Linked DNA regions of Homo sapiens. The protein of the gene in region 1 purifies or fractionates together with the protein of each later gene. This does not show direct contact. Each region holds a gene or a part of one and is shown on either strand. Other genes may lie near its edges.

Region 1 (3,500 bases):
ACGGGGTTCTCCGATGGGAACAGATGGTGCCCCAGCATCTGGGATGCGGTCTCAAGGGCTCCGACGCTGCTTTTGCCAAGGGTTTGGGTCTCACCTCACCGACCGGGAATGTGTCACGCTGTTACCTGAGCATGGGCTGAGTGGCCGCCTCTGTCCCTGCTGCTCTTGAAAAAGGTTATGTGAATGCATTAGAATTTCTTAAAGAAGTAGGGAAAAACCAACCTGTCCATGACTGTGCTACTCAAGGGAAACTCATTATGGTGGACTTTTGACAAATGTGTATAGTTTCAGTGTTATTTATTAATTTTTTTTTGAGACAAGGTCTTGCTCTGTGGCCCAGGCTGGAATGCAATGGCACCCTCACAGCTCACTGCAGCCTCAGTCTCCCAGGCTCAGGTGCCTCAGCCTCCCAGCTAACTGGGACTACAGATACATACCACTGCACCTGGCTAGTTTTTGCTGTTTGTTTTTAGTAGAGATGGGGGTCTCACTATGTTGCCCAGGCTGGTCTCAAACTCCTGAGCTCCAACGATCCTCTTGCACTGGCCTCCTAAAGTGCTGGATTACGGGTGTAAGCCACGGGGCCTCGCCAAGTATTGTTTTCTCTTTTTCCGAGATGGAGTCTCGCTCTGTCACCTAGGAATGCAGTGGCTTACTCTCAGCTCACTGCAACCTCTGCCTCCGGGGTTCAAGCGATTCTCCTGCCTCAGCCTCCCGAATAGCTGGAACTACAGGCGCCCACCACCATGCCCAGCTAATTTTTTTGTTTTTTGGTGTTTTTTTTTAGTAGAGATGGGATTTCACTATGTTGGCCAGGCTGGTCTTGAACTCCTGACCTCAGGTGATCCACCTGCCTCTGCCTCCCAAAGTGCTGGGATTATAGGCATGGGCCACTGTGCCTGGCCCCAAGTATTGTTTTCTGTCTTAATGTTATTTAATGTAGAAACTTATTTACTCAAACTTTGATTTTTAATGGTTGCATAACTATGGATATACCATAGTGATTTTTTTGAACCTGTTTCTGCTCTGTACATTTAAGTGGCTTCTGTTTTCTCTGCTATTAGGATAAATGCTGCAGCGAACTCTTTGTCTATAAATCTTTTTTTCTCAGTATTACTTTTCCTCCCCAAATTTTAAGGAAACTTTCAGACATAAAAAAAACAATGTGTTTTATAGCGAATACCTGTATACCCACAGCCAGATTCCATGCTGACGTTTCGTAGCGTTCCTTTTGATCGTGTGGTTTCTCTTTCCAGCACGGGGCCTCCATTAACGCTTCTAACAATAAGGGCAACACAGCGCTGCACGAGGCTGTGATTGAAAAGCACGTCTTCGTGGTAGAGCTGCTTCTGCTCCACGGAGCGTCAGTTCAGGTGCTGAACAAGCGGCAGCGCACGGCTGTAGACTGTGCTGAACAGGTAGGTGGAGAGGGTCGAAGAGCCGAGGGAATCCTGAGCTCCTCACAGCTCCCTCTGGATCCCTTTGTTTAAGCTGGATCTAAAATAGCAACACCTGGCCCTTGGCATCGCCGGGCTGGGCGTAGTTGGTGTGCCAGAAGTCCACAGCGTGGGTAGATGGCTGGTCCTCAGTCTCCTGGTCAGAGGTGGTGCTCTGGGAACCAGGAATCATTCTTTTCACAGGTGGTTTTCAAAGGCCTGAGTGGAGGGGCCCCCCCCTCAGCTAGCAGTAGGGCTGTGGTCCGGTAGTTACATAGAGTCAGGCACTCAGGAAGGAGCAAGTCATGATGTTCTGGTGTCACCATCCTCACAGTGTGAACACAGCCGTTGTCTTAGCAGCACGATGGAGAAGGTTTGTTTTGTTGGTGGATTTAAAACTCCTTGAGGCCAGGCACAGTGGCTCATGCCTGTAATCCCAGCACTTTGGGAGGCCAAGGAAGGAGGATCACTTGAGCGCAGGAGCTCATGACCAGCCTGGGCAACATAGTGAGACCCCCTCTCTACAAAAAATCAAAAAATCAGCCGAGCATAGGGGTGCATGCCTGTAGTCCCAGCTACTCAGGAGGCTGAGGTGGGAGGATCGCTTGAGCCCAGGAGGTCAAGGCTGTAGTGAGCTGAGATTGTGCCACTGCACTCCAGCCTGGGTGACAGAGACTTTATCTCAAAAAAATGAAAGTAAAAGTCCTTGAGTCCTGTAGGAATCGTGATTATTGGCCTACTGCCTTCTCCAGTGCTGTGGATGCTTGCGTGGAGAGCGGCGGGGAAGGGTCCTTTTCCCCTGGCGAGCGGCAGCTCTTTCTGTTCCTGTTTTCCTGCTGAGTCTTTCTTTTGTTTTCTACCCAAGATAGACAGCGAGTAGGCTGTTAAGTGACACAACTGAGAAGCTAACATCACCATCAATCCACTCCATGGACAGGCTCCTTAGAGTAATTTTTTGTTTCTTAAGACAGAGTCTTGCTCTGTTGTGGCGTGATCTTGGCTCACTGCAACCTCTGCCTCCTGGGTTCAAGCGATTCTCGTGCCTCAGCCTCCTGAGTAGCTGGGATTACAGGCACGTGGCACCACACCTGGCTAAATTTTTGTATTTTTTGTAGAGACGGGTTTCACCATATTGCTCAGGCTGGTCTTGAACACCTGACCTAACTGATCCGCCTCCCTTGGCATCCCGAAGTGCTGGGATTACAGACGTGAGCCACTGTGCCTGGCCTCCTTATATTAATTTTCAGTGACAGAATTGAAATATTTTAAACTCTCAGTTTAGTACTTTCTTAAATGATTATGTTGAATTTTTTTTGGTTTTTAAAATTTTTAATTTTATTATTATTATTATTTTTTGAGACAGAGTCTCAATTTGTTGCCCAGGCTGGAGTATAATGGTGCAATCTTGGCTCACTGCAGCCTTAACCTTTGGGCGCAGATGATCCTCCAACCTCAGCCTCCCAAGTAGCTGGGACTATAGGCGTGTGCCACCATGACCAGCTAATTTTTTTTTAATAGAGACAGGGTTTTGCCATGTTGGCCAGGCTGGTCTCGACTGCCTGGGCTCAAGCAATCCACCCGCCTCGGCCTCTCAAAAGTGCTGAGATTACAGGCGTGAGCCATCGCGCCTGGCCTTTTATTATTTTTAAATAGAGACAGGGCCTTGCTATGTTGCCCAGGCTAGTCTTGAACACCTGGGCTCAAGCAATCCTCCCACCTCAGTCTCCCAAAGTGGTGGGATTGCACGCGTGAGCCACCGTGCCCAGTTAATTAATGTGTTTCAATGAGTACTTACTATATGGGGGCCCTCAACAGCCTCATGATAAGCATATGATAGTAGATCTTATTATGGTTGAGCTGGTTGCATGGAGTGGTTGAATCCCCAGCGTGGAGTCCACAGAGAGGGCAGAGCTTTTACCCAGTGGTAAAAGCAGAGCCGGGCTCCCCATGCAGGCCTGCTTTTACCACTGGGCTTTATGGCCTCCAAGCTCCATTTGTAATTATTTCTGAGCTTTTTCTGCCCAGTCACACTAATACTGACATTTAGATCAAAAACAAATAATA
Region 2 (3,500 bases), on another chromosome or scaffold:
AAACTCAAATAACAAAGAAGAGGGTTGAGTGAGGACCATGGAGGACTGGATAGTGGGTGGCCTTTCTCAAGGTGCTACTTAGCTCCACTTGGAAATTGCATGAATAGGATGCAAGTCTAGCGTTGCTAGAGCTGCTGATTTCCCAAGAGAGAGTGGAAATCTGAATTTTTATATATGACCCCGCATTTTAAAGTACTGGCAAATATTGTAAACATTTAAGAATCCTATCTGGGCCAAACAATACACATCTGAGAGATGGCTTTAGAGATCCATGAGCGGCCACTTTTGATCTTTGGCATAAATATTTGTTGAGTGGACAAGCGCAGTCATTGACACTATGTGCTGTTTGCTGTATTTCCTTTAGAGCATCCAGGTTCATTTGATATGGCTGTCATAGTAGGGGAAGCTGGGACCATCCTTTTTGAAGAATTTAGCAGAAAAATTCCCAGAAGTGTTGATTCTGCAGCTAGACATGTTAAAGGGGTCAGTTCAACATATTATCATCCAGCAGTATGCTTCATGCAGAGTTGGCTGTGGATAGTTCTAGGGACCCTTGAAATCAGAAGGAAGACCTGCTGTTTGCTTTGTTCTGAGTTCTATATTTGAAGTGGAGAATTATTTATTTGGACTTAAGATCATTGTTAAGAGAGTCTCCTAAGTGTTTCCCTCAGTCCTCGACAGAGTCTATAAAGTCTACAAACGTAGCCTAGAGCAGTAGACCTGCAAACATCCCCTAACATACTTGTCTGTGGTTTGTCTGTCATGCCTATTCCTTTAATGCAATGGCCCTATCTGTTGGATGACCGTATACTTTATTGTTTGATATGGGACAATTTTATTGTCAAAAGGGGCACCACTAATAATTATACAAGCACTGTGAGTAATAAACCTGGACTGTTGAGGACAAACCGAGATATATGGTCACCATGGCAAAGTTTGTGTTCATGCAGAGCCACCGAGTTGGAGGATTGTGGTTACTAATATAAAATGATAATGTTTTCAAGAGTATCTACTCACATATTGGAGTTGGATCTACATTTGACCTTAGAGCTGGGAGTGCTGTACTAATCGCTTGGGGGTCTGTTGTGGGGAGTTGCCACAGTGATGTGTTCCCTCTTGGCTCCACACCTCCCTTTGGGTCAGAGTCAATTTAAGGATGTGTGTCAGGAGAAGCATTCAACCAGAATGGCTCAATGCACCACTGTTTCTCCAAGGTGCAAAGAGAAATGGAGATGGGGGTGAAATGTATGCCAATGCAGATCTGTCTCTAGTCAAGCCTATGTAGTCTTATACAGGAGGAATGTCAGGCTTAGCACATTTCAGCTAAACTTGAATATTTGAACTGGGAAAAGGGCTTAATCCCATTGGCATGAAGTGAATTACAGACTTAAACTGATTGGGGAAACAAGAATATCTGATTCTCTCCCAAAGGTCTAGGATAGGTCACTAATACTCTGTAAATATTTATCCACTTGCAAAAAGAGTCTGTATGGCATTACCCAAATTTTTCTGTTAAAAAGTTATTTTATGTTATACATACATTACTACAATAAAAAATAAAGCAGGAGTTGTTATTGAAAATATGAGACTTTGTTATGTTAATTTTTAATTAACATTTGCCTGTGAGTTTTGAAGCATCATTATGTTTTATAATTATAGGATGAACAATCATTTAAAAGGTAAAAACATGATTGTTATAATGTTTATTGGTTGTTTTTGTGTATTATTTACTGAAGCTTGCAAGAATGATTTTAAAGAGACTTTACAAATTGTGTTCTTAAGATTAAAAAAAGGAATTTAATGCCAGTGTTTTCCCAACTCTCAGTTCTCTTAAAAACGTGTATTACTATCTGAGCTTTATTCACGTAACCAGTTTTTTTGTCAATATATTTTTAGAAGGTCATTTTTCAGTTCTTTTTCAAAGTTGATGGTTAGTAGCTTTGAGAATATACTAGTAAGAATACCAGAGAAATTGAAACCTGGAAGATTTCACCTCTCTGTGCTTTCTAAGAAGTTTGTTCTGTGGACAGATAGATCTATCTCTTTTTTTGTAATCATTTTTTATTCTCTCTCCTCCTTGCAGTCTGAAGTGGAGGTTAATTTGCCTTGGCTCTGTGGTAGAATCTTGACTGCAATATCTGGCGGAAAGGCACAAACATAGCCCAGAGACTCCCAGCCACAATGGAGCACATTATGATAGGAGCCCTAAGCTGAAAATTGAAGGTGTTCAGTGTCAGGGCTTGATTATCAGAAACCAGAGATTCTCAAACTTCAGTGTGTGTGTCAGAATTACCTAGAGGGCTTCTTAAAAGAGACCACTGGACCCTACCCTCAATTTCTGATTTAACAAGTTCTCTGGTGATGCTCAAACTACTGGCCGGGTGACCACAGTTTTAGAAACCCTGTGCTAAGTTATTTGGTTCATTTGGTTGGCTGTATGACCATTTCTGTTCCCCTGGATATTTTTGTAGTCTTTCTCAGACTTGAAAGTTCAAGTGGAATGTGAGGAGAAATAATATTTGACTCTGGAATATTTTTAAGAAGCTCTTCATCTTCTAGCTTAATGATTTGCCTGTCCTTTCCCTGATATAGACATTATTCTGCCAGACATCATAAGACCATGCAAATGTTGAATGAAAACTTTGCCTTTCAGCCAAAAGTTTTAAGTTCTGCAGGTGGAATAAACAGTTCATTTTGAGGGGAATACAGATAACCTAAAAATCTGAAGTCCAAAGTGTTTTAACGTCAGAAACGTTTTGAGCATCAACATGACACTACAGGTGGAAAATTCTTCACCTGATTTCATGAGATCACAGTCAAAACACACAAAATTATTAAACATATTGTATAAAATTACCTTGAGGCTATGTGTATAAGGTGTATAGAAACACAAATGAAGTTTTTTTGTTGTTGTTGTTTATTTTTTTGAGGTGGAGTCTCGCACTGTCGCCCAGGCTGGAGTGCAGTGGCGCGATCTCGGCTCACTGCAACCTCCACCTCTCAGGTTCAAGTGATTCTCCTGCCTCAGCCACCCAAGTAGCTGGGATTATAGGAGTGCACCACCACGCCCAGCTAATTTTTGTATTTTTAGTAGAGACGGGGTTTCACCATATTGGCCAGGCTGGTCTCAAACTCCTGACCTCAAGTGATCTGCCCGCCTGGGCCTCCCAAAGTGCTGGGATTACAGGTATGAGCCTCTGCACCCAGCCAGAAACATAAATGAATTTTATACTTAGACTTGGGTCTCATCCTTAAGATATCTCATTATGTATATGCAAATATTCCAAAATCTGAAAAAAAAATTCAAAATCTGAAACACTTCTGTTCCCAAGTATGTTGGATAAGTGATACGCAACCCATATATCCTAATTTCAGATTATGATAGTTTTTGAAAAAATTAAAGCTTGATTTACAGCCTGAGAAATAACACCATTCAGTAAGGCAGAGACTGTTCACATGCCCTTTTCTCATTTTGGAATGAGTAATTGCTTGGTGAGGAA

Evidence for each region. Proteins that work in one complex are often made in the same cells at the same time.
Region 2: the proteins of ANKRD27 (region 1) and TBC1D4 purify together in Homo sapiens (affinity purification with mass spectrometry; one large-scale study listed by BioGRID and IntAct). This does not show direct contact.

The regions. Positions count from the first base shown.
Region 1 is NC_000019.10:32,602,181-32,605,680, reverse strand, and holds part of ANKRD27 (ankyrin repeat domain-containing protein 27), read left to right. Parts: intron 1-1,256; coding exon 1,257-1,418; intron 1,419-3,500. UniProt on the Homo sapiens protein: May be a guanine exchange factor (GEF) for Rab21, Rab32 and Rab38 and regulate endosome dynamics.
Region 2 is NC_000013.11:75,475,670-75,479,169, reverse strand, and holds part of TBC1D4 (TBC1 domain family member 4), read left to right. Parts: intron 1-3,500.